Linked DNA regions of Homo sapiens. The protein of the gene in region 2 binds, or shares a complex with, the protein of the main gene of each other region. Each region holds a gene or a part of one and is shown on either strand. Other genes may lie near its edges.

Evidence for each region. Proteins that work in one complex are often made in the same cells at the same time.
Region 1: MED13 (region 2) and MED20 share a complex: the UniProt entries of both Homo sapiens proteins name them as parts of the mediator complex.

Annotation. Positions count from the first base shown.
Region 1 is NC_000006.12:41,918,118-41,925,658, forward strand, and holds the start of MED20 (mediator of RNA polymerase II transcription subunit 20), read right to left. Parts: upstream 3,023-7,541; 5' UTR 2,902-3,022; coding exon 2,888-2,901; intron 2,827-2,887; exon of another isoform or gene 2,683-2,826; intron 1-2,682. Other genes in the region: BYSL (bystin), read left to right, coding at 3,446-3,713. UniProt on the Homo sapiens protein: Component of the Mediator complex, a coactivator involved in the regulated transcription of nearly all RNA polymerase II-dependent genes.
Region 2 is NC_000017.11:61,978,278-61,985,301, forward strand, and holds part of MED13 (mediator of RNA polymerase II transcription subunit 13), read right to left. Parts: intron 6,814-7,024; coding exon 6,723-6,813; intron 6,589-6,722; coding exon 6,374-6,588; intron 6,091-6,373; coding exon 5,894-6,090; intron 4,838-5,893; coding exon 3,921-4,837; intron 1-3,920. UniProt on the Homo sapiens protein: Component of the Mediator complex, a coactivator involved in the regulated transcription of nearly all RNA polymerase II-dependent genes.

The sequences.
Region 1 (7,541 bases), on a different chromosome or scaffold from region 2:
GTGCCAGACTGCATCCTAAGGCCTTTAGATGAATTAACTCTCCAAATCCTCACGATAGTCCTATGAAGGTGTGTTATTTATCAACTTGTTACAAATGAGGAAACTGCCGGGCATGGTGGCTCACGCCTGTAATCCCAGCACTTTGGGAGGCCGAGGTGGGCGGATCACTTGAGGTCAGGAGTTCGAGACCAGCCTAGCCAACATGGTGAAACCCTGTCTCTACCAAAAATACAAAACTTAGCCAGGCATGGTGGTGTGCGCCTGTAATCCCAGCTACATGGGAGGCTGAGGCAGGAGAATCACTTGAAACCAGGAGGCGGAGGTTGCAGTGAGCCAAGATCGCACCACTGCCCTCCAGCCTGGACAACAAGAGCGAAACTCCATCTCAAAAAGAAAAAAAAAAAGACGAAACTTGGCCAGGCACGGTGGCTCACGCCTGTAATCCCAGCACTTTGGGAGGCCAAGGCGGGCAGATCACGAGGTCAGGAGATCAAGACCATCCTGGCTAACACGGTGAAACCCCGTCTCTACCAAAAATACAAAAAAATGGCCGGGCGCGGTGGCTCACGCCTGTAATCCCAGCACTTTGGGAGGCCGAGGCGGGTGGATCATGAGGTCAGGAGATCGAGACCATCCTGGCTAACAAGGTGAAACCCCGTCTCTACTAAAAATACAAAAAATTAGCCGGGCGCGGTGGCGGGCGCCTGTAGTCCCAGCTACTCGGGAGGCTGAGGCAGGAGAATGGCGTGAACCCGGGAAGCGGAGCTTGCAGTGAGCCGAGATTGCGCCACTGCAGTCCGCAGTCCGGCCTGGGCGACAGAGCGAGACTCCGTCTCAAAAAAAAAAAAAAAATACAAAAAAATTAGCCAGGCATGGTGGTGGGCGCCTGTAGTCCCAGCTACTCGGGAGGCTGAGGCAGGAGAATGGCATGAACCCGGGAGGCGGAGCTTGCAGTGAGCCGAGATCACGCCACTGCACTCCAGCCTGGGCAACAGAGTGAGACTCTGCCTCAAAAAAAAAAAAAAAAAAAAAAAAGAGGAAACTTAAGTACAGCACAAAGAGGTTAAATAACTTGCACTAGGTCACACAGTTAATGGGTGGTACACTCAAGACTCAAAGCCCAGCAACCTGGCTTGATGTCCATGCTCTTAACCACTAACTAGACTGCCTGTATAAGGATGTAGTGCCTGTTAAAACATTAAGGAAAATCGATTAAAAAATTAATAAACAATAGTACAAGCAGTACTTAGCTATATAGAAATCAAGAAAACAGTCATAGATGACATTGCTTTATGATCAACTAAATGAATCTATTAAGGTAGAGTCCTTCTGTTGCTAAAAATTGTCACTACTCTATCAGAAAAAAACACTGATAAACGATGTTGCTAATGTGCCTTATTTTGAAATACAAAAGAATCCCTAAACTGACGCTACAAGTGACAGAAGTCCTAGGATTCTGAAAACGTTGATAAGGGGGCCAACAGAGAGCCCTTTCCCTGGAGCTGCCTTCTCCATTTAAAGAGCAGGGGTGGCTGGGCACGGTGGCTCATGTCTATAATGCCAATACTTTGGGAGACCAAAGCAGGAGGCTCGCTTGAGTTCAGGAATTCAAGACCTGCATGTACAAAACAGCAAGACCCCATTTCTATTTCTTTAAAAAAAAGAAAGAGCAAGGGTTCCAGGGTTCTACGCTGCATCCTTTCCATTTCCATTCCTCACATATCTTGCTTCCATTAAGGAACACAGGAGGATCGTGTCAATCGTAGGAAGCAAGAGTGCAATCACTGAGAAACCTGCAAGAACCTGGGCTACCAGGAGGAAAAGTATTTCCCCTACACATGCTTTTGTATGAGAAGCCTATATCCACTGGCTTCAAATATCCTGGCCTCCGGATTTCTCCCACGGGAAAAATGCTCACATCTACTGAGATAAGAAAAAAATGTTCTGGGACCTGGCACCTTACAACTAACGCCTCCACGAGCACTGGACCCATACCTTTCCCTGCCACCTCATCTTCTTTCAACTGAGACTTAAAACATATGAAAGATAAAAACTCCATTGAAACTAGACCAACCATGGAATTAAACATAGTGGGAAACGGGTCCTAAAGAGATAAAGTGCCTGGAACCATGATCTCCTTATTATCAATACCCTTTTTTCCTCTAGACCCAAGATCTTAAAATGAGCAAATTAGAAACAGACACAAGCGGGTCTAACTGTATTTGATGGCTGAGGGAAGAGCAGGCGAAAATCTTAAAAAATACTATCTCCTGATTGCTTATGGCCCACTCCCTCCAACCCTGTCTGCAGGTGGGTCATAGTCCAAAGACCCTATTTCCAACCCTGAGGTCCCACTGCAGGCAGTACTATGGCCTCACGGGAAGGAAGATGTATCCAGAAGAGAATGAGGTATACAACCATTGATAGGTTCCTGGGATAAAAAGTTTGCTTTGTCGACACCAGCGTGGCCAATATGGTGAAACCCCATTTCTACTAAAAATACAAAAAGTAACCGGGCGTGGTGGCGGGCGCCTGTAGTCCCAGCTACTCGGGACTACAGGAGAATCGCTTGAACCCAAGAGGCGGAGTGTTGCAGTGAGCCAAGATCGCTCCACTGCACTCCAGTCTGGCGACAGAGCGAGACCCCGTCTTAAAAAAAACAAAACAAAACAAAAAAAAAACCTTTGCTTTCCCGCCTTCCAAGAGGAAGGGGCGCATCTCTGAGGAAACAAGCCCGGGGAACCCGCAGCCCGGACGGCATCCTCTCATCTACACAACCCGAGGACATCTCCCTCAGCTCCCAGAGGACGGCGGACCATGGTCAAGGTCCTCTTTCCGGCCTTTCACAACTCCAAGCCCCGCCCCACAAAACCCCCTGCAGTCCTACCAAGTCACTCCCATGGCGTCGGGCCAGGAAGGTGGCAGAATCACACAGTAGAAACGCAGGGTTCCCTGTCCGCCCACAGAAACTCCTTCAGTTCCCCAACACAACCTTCTGTCTCAGAAGGGACTCCGGAAATACGTAAAAACAGAGCGCCGGGTCCACGCCTTCCCCAAGGAATGGGGCGTGTCTCGGCACCCCTCGGTGACGCCTCCACTGACATCATCTGCGGATTCCCGCCCCGAGGTTTCTAAATCCAGACATTCCCGTTTGGCTGAGCACTCTAGGCCTACATCCATGAAGCTAGGAGAGCGACACTCAAAGACTGCACTATTGAGAGAAGCTAACGTTAAAGGCAGTGAATATATTCGGGAGTCCAGCTCCGGAACCCGGGAGCTCTTTTAGTGGGAGGGGCGGCGCTGATGGCGCTTCTGGCCTCCGAATGCTAGGGGGCGCTGTGATCGCCGGGCGGCCTCTTGGGCGCTGGGAGTCCACCGCGCAAGCGCATCCTGGCCTTTCTTCAGTCCCCACGTGCGATCCTTCCCGGCAACTTTTTCGAGAAAAATGCCCAAATTCAAGGCGGCCCGTGGGGTGGGGGGTCAGGAAAAACATGCGCCCCTGGCCGATCAGATCCTGGCTGGGAATGCGGTGCGGGCGGGGGTCCGGGAGAAGCGGCGGGGTCGCGGGACAGGAGAAGCGGAGGAAGAGTATGTGGGGCCCCGGCTGAGCCGACGGATTTTGCAGCAAGCACGGCAGCAACAGGAGGAACTCGAGGCCGAGCATGGGACTGGGGACAAGCCCGCGGCGCCGCGGGAACGCACCACGCGGCTGGGTGAGTGTCTGGGATGAGGTCCGAGGAAGACAGTGGCCAGTAGTGGGGCGGGGTGGGCAGCTAAAAAGTGTCTGGCAGGGGAATTGCTTCGAGTCAACAAAGGGGTCCGTATTACACTTGCAAAGGAGACTGAACCCTGTCTAGAGCCCTCCGCGTCCACTCCTAGTTTTAGGCACTCCCTTCTAGACACCCCCGAAGTTAGGCCAACAGTAATCGATCGCGCCACTAAGTGCTCCTAGCATGTATCCATTGGTTTTGTAAATATTTATGGGATACCCACTACGAGCTTTGCGCTATGCTCGGAATTCTATCGAATGTTTGGGTACAGAAGTAAACAACACAGGCACGTCTAACTTAAGGACCTTACAGTCAAGCCCAGCAGAGAGGCAATTAAGTAGACTCTTAGAATAATATATTTCCATGATAAAGTATCGTTTCCCTGGTAACAATAGCATTGGTCTTGAGAAGCTTCTCCGATTGCAGCAGGACCTTTAAGCTGAGAACTGAAAAACGAATGGGAAGTGTTATGAGCAGAAAACACATTGTTTAGCAGCCAAAGAGCGAGAGAGATGAATTGAAAGACGTCTGATGTTTTCTCACTAGGGAGGGAGTGTTGACCTCTGAGGTGCTTCATCCGTTTCTCAGATCTCATCTAAAGCAATATTTGACACAATTGAATAGTGGCCTTCTGGCCACAGTATCCTTACTTGGGTTCTAAGACATCAACACTCCTGTTTTACTGCCACCTCACTTCTCAGTATCCTTGGCTGACTCTTATTGCAACCTCTTCTCCTCAGTCCTCTGACCTCTTCAAATATTCTCTGGTGCTGGCAAGTTTCATGGTTTAAATACCATCCTTGAGTGACTACTCCTAACTTTATAGTCTAGCCCTGATCTCTTCCATGAAATCCAGATTCTTATATTCAACTGCCTATTTGGCATCTCCAATTTGAAATCTAACAGACAGCTCAAATTTAACATGTACAAAACAGAAATCCTGACCTTCCCTCCAAACCTGCTTCTCTCACCATTGCCTTCCCTGTCTCAGTTAGTAGCATATTCTTTCATTTGCTCGAGATAAACTTTAGACTCCTCTCTCTCCCTGCCCCCACCATCTCCTCTCTCTGTCTCTCCCTCCCCACATCTGATCTGTAAGGAAATTCTGATGACTTTGCCTTCAAAGTGTATCCAAAATGAGACCACTTTTCACCGCTTTGGAACACCATCCTGTCGTAGCCACCACAGTCTCTCACCTGGATTATCACAGTAGCCTCCTCGTTAGTATCTCATATTCTCCGTTTTTTCTTTTTTTCTTTTTTTTTTGAGACAGAGTCTCTCTCTCTCTCTGTCACCCAGGATAGAGTGCGGTGGCACAATCATAGCTAACTGCAGCCTCAATCTCCTGGGCTCCAGTCGTCTTTCCACCTCAGCCTCCCACGTAGCTGGGACCACAGGTGTGTGCCACCATGTCCAACTAATTCTTTTTTTTTTTTTTTGAGCCTGTCGCCCAGGCTGTAGTGCAGTGGCGCAATCTTGGCTCACTGCAACCTCTGCCACCTAGGTCCAAGCAATTCTTCTGCCTCAGCCTTCTGAGTAGCTGAGATTACAGGCGTGAGCCATCACATCCAGTTAATTTTTGTATTTTCAGTAGAGATGGGGTTTCACCATGTTGGCCAGACTGGTCTTGAACTCCTGACTTCAGGTCATCGTCCACCTCTGCCTCCCAAAATGCTGGGATTACAGGCGTGAGCCACCGCACCTGGCCGCTAATTATTTAATTATTTGTAGAGATGAGGTCTCACAGTGGTGCCCAGTTTGGTCTCAAACTCCTGGGCTCAAACGACCCTCCCTGCCTTGGCCTCCCAAAGTGCTGGGATTACAGGTGTGAGCTACTGCACCCTGCCGTGTCTCATACTCTCTACAAAGTACTCACAGGTGGGGGATTACAATGGTCTACAATGCACTATATGATCTGCCTCCTTTGCCAGTCTGACCTCTTCTACTGCTTTCCTCTTTGCCCATTCCACTCCACCTATTTAGGCTTCATTGTGCCTTAAACGTGGGAAATTAGGGGGTTTGGCCTGGTTGTTCCTTCTCTCTGGGATAGTTTGTTCTCATACACTTGTAGGGTTACTTTCTCAGAGAGGCCTATCCACTCCATTTAAGATTGCAGCACTCTACTCCATCTCCATACTCCCAGCATTTCTGCCCTATCTTTTTTTCATAGTACTTATCTTTTTTTTTTTTTTGAGACAGAGTCTCGCTCCGTCACCCAGGCTGAGTGCAATACCACGATCTCGGCTCACTGCAACCTCCACCTCCCGGGTTCAAGCGATTCTCCTGCCTCAGCCTCCCAAGTAGCTGGGATTACAGGCGCCCGCCACCACACCCAGCTAATTTTTTTTTTTTTTGTATTTTTAGTAGAGTTGGGGATTTCGCTATGTTGGCCAGCCTGGTCTCAAACTCCTGACCTCAGGTGATCCACCCGCCTCGGCCTCCCGAAGTGCTGGGATTACAGGCATGAGCCACTGCACCCAGCCCATAGTACTTATCTTTTAACCCAATATATTTATATGTTTATTTATGTCTGTCTCTTCCATTTAGACAGGATTGGGTGCGTTCAGGGTGGTATGGTCGTAGACTATCTCCTCCAATTAGAATGTAAGCTGTATAGAACAAAGTCTTTTGGTTTCGGTTGTTCGTGGATATATTGCCAGCACCCCGAACAGTGCCTCACATATAGTAGGTGCTTGGTGTTTGCTGAATGACTGGGTTAATCGGTAATGAATGATGGTCAGGTAGGTGGGAGCCAAGCCTACAAAAGATTTTAAAACCATCCTAACAGCAGTGGGAAGAATGGGAAGCTACTGGAGAATTTTAAGGACAGGGCTGATCAAATCAAATATGTGTTTCTGGAAGGTGACCGTCTGCAGAGTGGAAAATGAGTTGGAGGGAAGCAAGGTCAGAAACATAGAGACCAGTGGGCGACTGTTGAATAAATCCAGGCAAGAGATGATGCTGATCTAGGCTTAGATGGGGCTGTGAAGCATGTGAGAGACAGTCTATGAGGTAAAATTGAATATGATTTAGTAATTGATTGGGTGTTGAGGGTGAGGGCAGGGGATGAGGCAAGAGTACCTCCCAGGCTTAGCATTGGGTGGACGATGGTGCCGTTTACTGAGCTGTGGATGGTTAGCAGTGTAGACCTAGGAGGGAAAGAAAATTAGTTTAGTTGATAACGGGTGAGATTTGAGGTGCCTGTGAGTCATCCAAGAGCAGCTTACAGGAGACACCTGGAGTTAGGGTCTGGCACTAAGGAGAACCACCTACAAAGTACAAATTTGGGGGACCGTTGGAACGTGGAGACAAAATGTCTGTTCCCCCTTATTTAGTGTTTATCACACACTGCCTTTGTTGTTAATGACCTATTGATACGTAGCATTATAGCTCCCCACTTGGATTATTAGACCCCTTTCCAGATGCCCAGACATGTAGCCTTCCAAAAACAGAAGTTATTTAAATGGACTAACTTCATTTTTTTTTTTTTTTTTAAGACGGAGTCTCGCTCTGTCGCCCAGGCTGGAGTGCAGTGGCACGATCTTGGCTCACTGCAAGCTCCGCCTCCCGGGTTCACACCATTCTCCTGCCTCAGCCTCCCGAGTAGCTGGGACTACAGGCGCCCGCCACCACACCCGGCTAATTTTTTGTATTTTTAGTAGAGACGGGGTTTCACCGTGTTAGCCAGGATGGTCTCGGTCTCCTGACCTCGTGATCCGCCCGCCTTGGCCTCTCTAAGTGCTGGGATTACAGGCGTGAGCCACCGCGCCC
Region 2 (7,024 bases):
TTCACTCTTGTCGCCTGGGCTGGAGTACAATGGCAGGATCTCGGGCTCACTGCAATATCCACCTCATGGGGTCAAGCAATTCTCCTGCCTTAGCCTCCCGAGTAGCTGGGATTATAGGCATGCGCCACCATGCCCAGCTAATTTTTGTATTTTTAGTAGAGATGGGGTTTCACTAGGTTGGTCAGGCTGGTCTCAAACTCCTGGGTGGCTCATGCCTGGAATCCCAGCACTTTGTGGGGGGCCAAGGTGGGCGGATCAACTGCTCTGTATTTCATTTGATTCTCTCAATACCCTGTAAAGTAAATCTATTATTGACCCTATTTTAAGAAATCAAGGCACAGAAAGGTTAACTAACTTGGCCCAAGGTAGCAGGTAGTATATAGTGCTAGAGTCATGGTAGTATATAGTGCTAGAGTCATGTTTCAAACCCAGGCAGTCTGAGTCCACAGCCTATGATCTTAACTACTCTATATGGCTTAAAATAATCTTTCCTTTTTTTTGAATACCTATGATATTTATTTGTGTCTTTCCCTTTTTAAATTTGGTCCCTGAGAATGAATAATTGGATAAATGCTGATACTGTCATATACATGAACTTAATCACTGGTCCATGTGTTGTCCTCTTACATTTCAAAAATTTTCTTTAATAATAAAATGAACAACTGTAATCTCACTGCCCAAGAACTAGAACATTACCAAAAACGATCTTATTAAATGTTTCTCCCTATCCCTATCTCTTGGTCATTTTTGGACACATGTGAAATTTCAAGAATTAACCAATATTCTCAATTTTATGTGCATGTAAATAATACATTTAGTTGTGCTTGTTTCAAAACTTTATTAACGGTAATACATTAAAGAGGTATTTTTAAAGGGTATCTGACTATATGTAATCTTCTGGGACTTGTTCCCTCTTCCTCTCCTCAATAGTATCACTAAGATTCATCTATTTGTTATACATAACTGTAATTCATTTTCAGAAGCCATATAACATTCCATCTGTACTATCATGATTACTCAACCCTGCAAACATGGCCATTTTTTTCTTTTTGAGAAAAATCTCACTCTGTCAAATAGGCTGGAGTGCAGTGGTACAATCATGGTTCACCGAATCCTCCACCTCCTAGGTTCAAGCTATACTCCCACCTCAGCCTCCCAAGTAGCTGAGACTACAGGTGCATGCTACCACACCCAGCTAATTTTTGTATTTTTAGTAGAGATGGGTTTTGCCATGTTCACCAGGCTGGTCTTGAACTCCTGGGCTCAAATGATCTGCCTGCCTCAGCCTCCCAAATGCTGGGATTACAGCCATAAGCCATATCTGTCAATTAAAAAAAATTCCTTTCTATAGGATCACTCCCAATGCACCTTTAATAAAATAATAATAAACCTCTCTTTTAACCCTATTATGCAATTTCTCTGCTATTTACAGCAAAAGTCCCCAGAAAATTGTCTAAGTTTGCTTCTCATCCCGTTCTTTTGTGAACCCACTCCAATCAGATTGACTGAAACTGCCTATCAAGGTGACCACCAACTTCTATTTGGTCACATCCAATAGCCTGTCTCAGTTTTCACCTTAATGTATCGAAGTATTTGATAGAGATGATCACTCTCTTCTAAATATTCCCGGGCCAGGCACGGTGGCTCACACCTGTAATCCCAGCACTTTGGGAGGCCGAGGCAGGTGGATTGCCTGAGCTCAGGAGTTCGAGACCAGCCTGGGCAACACAGTGAAACCTCGTCTCTACTAAAATACAAAAAATTAGCCGGGTGTGGTGGCGTGCACCTGTAGTCCCAGCCACTTGGGAGGCTGAGGCAGGAGAATTGCTTGAACCCGGGAGGTGGAGGTTGCAGTGGGCCGAGATCACGCCACTGCACTCCAGCCTGGTGACAGAGCGAGACTCTGTCTCAAAACAAAAACAAACAAACAAAAATTCCCTATACCTGATTTCTAGGATACCATGCTCCCTTGGTTTTCCTCCAACCTCCTTCTCAATTTCCTTTCCTGGTGCCTTTTCTCCCTCCCCACTTATAAATGTCAGCTCCATCCTTGTACTACTCTATCTACAATTACTCTACAGTTTATTTCATCCAGATCCACAGCTTTTCATAATAACTCACACACAAAATTTTTCTATCTCCAGACCCAATCATTCCTCTGAATTTAAAACATATTATCTCCAAATGTGTATCTGATTTACTCCCCCGTGTTTCCCTCCTCTGTAGTTAGTACTACCATTCACCCAGGTGCTCAAGCTATTATTGATGCCTCATCTTTCCTTACACGTCTTTTGGCAAACCCTGTAGGTTCTATTTCCCAAATAACCTAAAACCTATTACTTACATCTCGCTGGCCTCTTATCTTGTCTAAGCTACCATCATCTTTCACCTAAGCTACTGAAACTGCCTTCCAACTGATTTATCCTGCTTCTGTTCTCACTTTCACTACTTCCAAACCCCAACGCTATTTTCCACACAATAGCAACAGAGTGTCTTGCTCTGTTGCCCAGGCTGGAGTGCAGTGGCATTATCTCAGCTCAACACAACCTCCGCCCCCCAGGTTCAAGCAACTCCTCTGCCTTGGCCTCCTGAGCAGCTGGGACCACAGGCACGCCCCACCATGCTGGCTAATTTTTGTATTTTTCACCATATTGGGCAGGCTGGTCTCAAACTCCTGGCCTCATGATCTGCCCACCTCAGTCTCCCAAAGTGCTGGGATTAGACGCATGAGCCACCGCACCCAGCCATTTTTTTTTTCTTTTAGATGGGAGTTTCACTCCTGTTGCCCAGGCTGGAGTGCAGTAGTGCGATCTTGGCTCACTGCAACTTCCGCCTCCCAGGTTCAAGTAATTATCCTGCCTTAGCCTCCCGAGTAGCTGGGATTATAGGCGCCCACCACCAAGCCCAGCTAATTTTAAATTTTTAGTAAAGACGGGATTTCACTATGTTGGTCAGGCAGGTCTCGAACTCCTGACCTCAGGTGACCTGCCTACCTCAGCCTCCCAAAGTGCTGGGATTACAGGCATGAGCCACTGTGCCAGACTGAGAGATCTCTTAAAAAACAATCAGAATAAGGATCATGTTACTTTCCTTGTCAAAACTGTTCAATAGCTTCCCATCACATTTAGTATAAACCACAAAGGCCTTACATGGTCTATAAGACTCTAAATGATGCTGGTGAATGGCTACCTCCTAAATTTCATCTCCTTCCAGTCTCCCTATCACACAAAGCATTCCAGCAGCATCAGTCACCTTAATGTTCCTCAAACATGTAAAAGCAAAATACTCCCTCAGGGTCTTTGCACTGCCTGAAACACTCTTCCCTCATTTAACTACATAGCTCATATTCTATGTTATGTAGGAGTTTTCCCATATGCTATCTCCTCAGTAGTATCTTATCTGACCATACATCTAAAATAGTACATATGTGGTGTCTTGTTCTGTTTTACTCTGCTTTTCCTCCAAATTACTTCTTACTATCTATTATATGCTTTTTTGTTTATTTCCTATTTTCTCCACTAAATTATAGATTCAAAAAGGGCAAAGAATATGTGTGCTTTGTTCAACAGTGAATCTAGGCTAATACCTGGCACATACAAGGTGCCCAGTAAATACTTAATGAGTGAAAGAATGTTGAATAAAGCAGACCACTAGCAATGTTATGCTAATAAATATATGGAATGTGCCTTTCATATTCCTACATAAGTATATAATTACAGATTTATAATAACCATACTTTTATTGGTGAAATTAAACTAAACTGCTAAGAAATTCTCCCTTTAAAAACATCATCCATAAAGAGTTTTAAGTCCAACTTTAAATGTATTTGCCACATGGGAAACTGCCTTTATTACTTTTTCCTAAGAATGTAACTAAAGGGAAATAAGCAAACAAAAAAGTATTTTATTGGCATACTTTACCGTTTCTTTTGGACCAGGGGTGTAAGCATGAACTTTTCACAAGTGCTTCATCAACTTTTCCTCCTGACATGTTATCCATGAACTGACGCCCATGTTCTAATGCAAGGTAGCAGTCATTGCAACAGTCACGCTCTTCAACACGTACCCAATTGCTAATTACACCACTTTTAGGAAAAGGATCTTGGTCTGCTGCTCCAAAGGGTGAAAATAAATTAGTGCACTGATCTTGTAGCAATAATATCAAATCATCAGATAATTTTTCAGATTCCTTTAGTCCTCCATTAACATGTTCAGCAGAGGTAGCCCTGAGAGCTTCAAAACGTTTTTCTGCTTCTTTGCCACAGTCTGTATTGCGTCCTATGATATCTAGTTCATCTTCAAGAAATAATCCTGAATTGTTTCCAAATTTTCTGTTCATGACAGCACTGAAGCCACAGGTACACCTATATTGTGCTTCCTGCGTTGGATCTGGAATGTAAACTCCAACATCGGCACCCTTGATGTTCATGTTGCAAACACAGATGCAACAACTATCAAAGTTACAGTCTTTAAACAAATTCATAACTGATTCTGAAAGGATGAGGTTTACATAAAGACTGTGTGCTTCAGGGATGGAAGGGACAGTTGCAGGTTCAACAGAATTAAGGGGTCTGCATGTAGATGGGGTAGAAGCTGGTGAATACAAGTCTGAATTTTCATATTTGACTGAACCTTGAGCACTAGCAGGTCCACCAGCTCCACGAGGAGTCCGAGGAGTCCTTGGAGTCCTTGGAGTTGGAAACCGAGGGGTGGATGGAGAAGGAAGAATTCCTGCTCCGCTGTTACTAGGAGGTGCACTGCTAGGAGGCATCCCAAAAGAAGTATGAGTTTGAGGTGTATAAGCAGTGCCATATTCTTGATCCATATTACTTCCATCACTATCATCACCAGGGTAAAAGAAGATCAAATATATATATAAAGGAACATATTAGTAATGTGAAATACAACTAAAAACGTCCCAAATGTTTTTCAATTACATAGAAAATTATGAAAGGACAAGTATTGCAAGAATTACAAGCACAGTCAATTCTTATTTCTGGTTAACATATCTACTCTAAGTGATTGTTGTTGACTAAGGATCAATTAACAAGTTCAAAAATCATTAATAAGCACTCTATACACTAATGCATACCTAGACATCCATATTTACTATCTATAAATTTTGTTTACTAGAAATACTTATATTTCCTTGATTCTAAGATGCTACTGACTATAAAAAAAGAAAAATGATTTTAGAGATGCTCATGTGTAAAAAGGGAAAAATGGTAATTTTAAAATGCTACCACTTATAAGACATCTCAGATTCAGATTTCTTTTAGCCTTGAGTTGAAACTGACCAAGTCAGAGATGTTAAAATGTGAAAAGTGTGGAAAAGATGGCAAATGTAAAAATGGGAGCAATTTAAAATTGCAGCCCAAAAGAAAAGGTGCTTCGGAATACAAATCAAGCATAATAGTCTTAAGTTTCCTAATAGTTTATCCATACCCAATTAACCTTTTTTTTTTTTTTTTTGAGACAAAGTCTCACTCTTGCCCAGGCTGGAGTGCACTGGTGCGATCTCGGCTCCCTGCAATGCCTGACTCCCAGGTTCAAGCCATTCTTGTGCCTCAGCCTCCCAAGTAGCTGGGACTACAAGCATGCGCCACCACGCTTGGCTAATTTTTGTATTTTTAGTAGAGACGAGGTTTCGTATGTTGGCCAGGCTGATCTCAAACTCCTGACCTCAAGGGATACGCCTGCCTTGGCCTCCCAAAGTATGGGAATTACAGGCGTGATTCACTGCTCCCAGCCAATCACTATAATTGATTAACCAGAAATAATTTTTAGAATTTTCAAAAACCAATTTTATTTTTCCAGCATACCAGGTAAATCTATGAAAAAAAAATTAAAGCTGTATAAGCAGTCACATACTATTGTAACAACATAAATCATACCCCTCTTTGATGAATGGCATTGAAGGCCCTGAAGAAAGCAATTCCAATTTTCCAACAGTCCAACTCTGACGGTAAATACACTCTTCTGGCAATTTGATAGGGGGCAGATATTGGCTTGGTAGAGTTTTTAGAGGTGCAAACATGGAACATCCCACTAGAATTTGACAATTTTCAGGCTTATAGACATAAGAAAAATCCTACAATATAAAGATGGTAGGTTTTCAGTATCTTATCTTCTAGGAGGAAAAAATAAATAAACAAACAGGCTCTGGACCTTTTTTCCTTTCTTTAAACAGAATAAAATCTAAATACAATTCTATTATTTTCTTAAATGCATTCTTAATAGTGACAACAATAATTCAGTCCTCAACTTAGCTACAAAACCGCAACCACTATAAAATAATTTTTGACTATAGCAACAAATTAATTCTATAAGAAAATATAGGAAGTGAATTATTTTTCTAGAAAAAACATACTTACTTTAATTTCAGAAGGTTTGGGGCTACAGAATCCCTCATCAACCTCAATTTTGAACTGCGCTCCTATACTAGAACTATTTCCTTCTAGAACAGTTCCTCCAGGTGTTGTATCCATACTACCATATTCTTTATTATTCATATTCATTGGGGAAAATCCCATAATATGTTGTTCCAATGATGGTGGTGTAGGATACATTTTATGAAGATCTGCAGTGCCTATATTTAATAAAAACATACATTTTAACATGACTAAAAATAGGCGAATCTGTGTTTAAACCAAAAGGAGTGGGGAGCTTTGTTGAGATTAAAAGTTCGCAAATTTATCTCGAGCACAGATGAGGGAAGCTTACTTATGCAAGATAACGGGTCCAGATTTCCTGTCTTTGATTCCTTGCAGCTGGCTTTATCATCTGATCCATTTGCTGATTTTTTAGATCCAGGCTATTTAAAAAAAGCACATATTTATCTAAAATTTTACATCCAATGTGATCTCAAAATAGTAATCATTCAGATATAACTTAACAGTAAAGCCCATTCATTAAAAGTAGTATTTTGAATCTGTGATACAGCCAAATACATACTAGTGTTGAAAGATATAAAATATTTCTTAATCACTGACTCCAGATTAATTTATTTGGTAAGCCTCCAAATT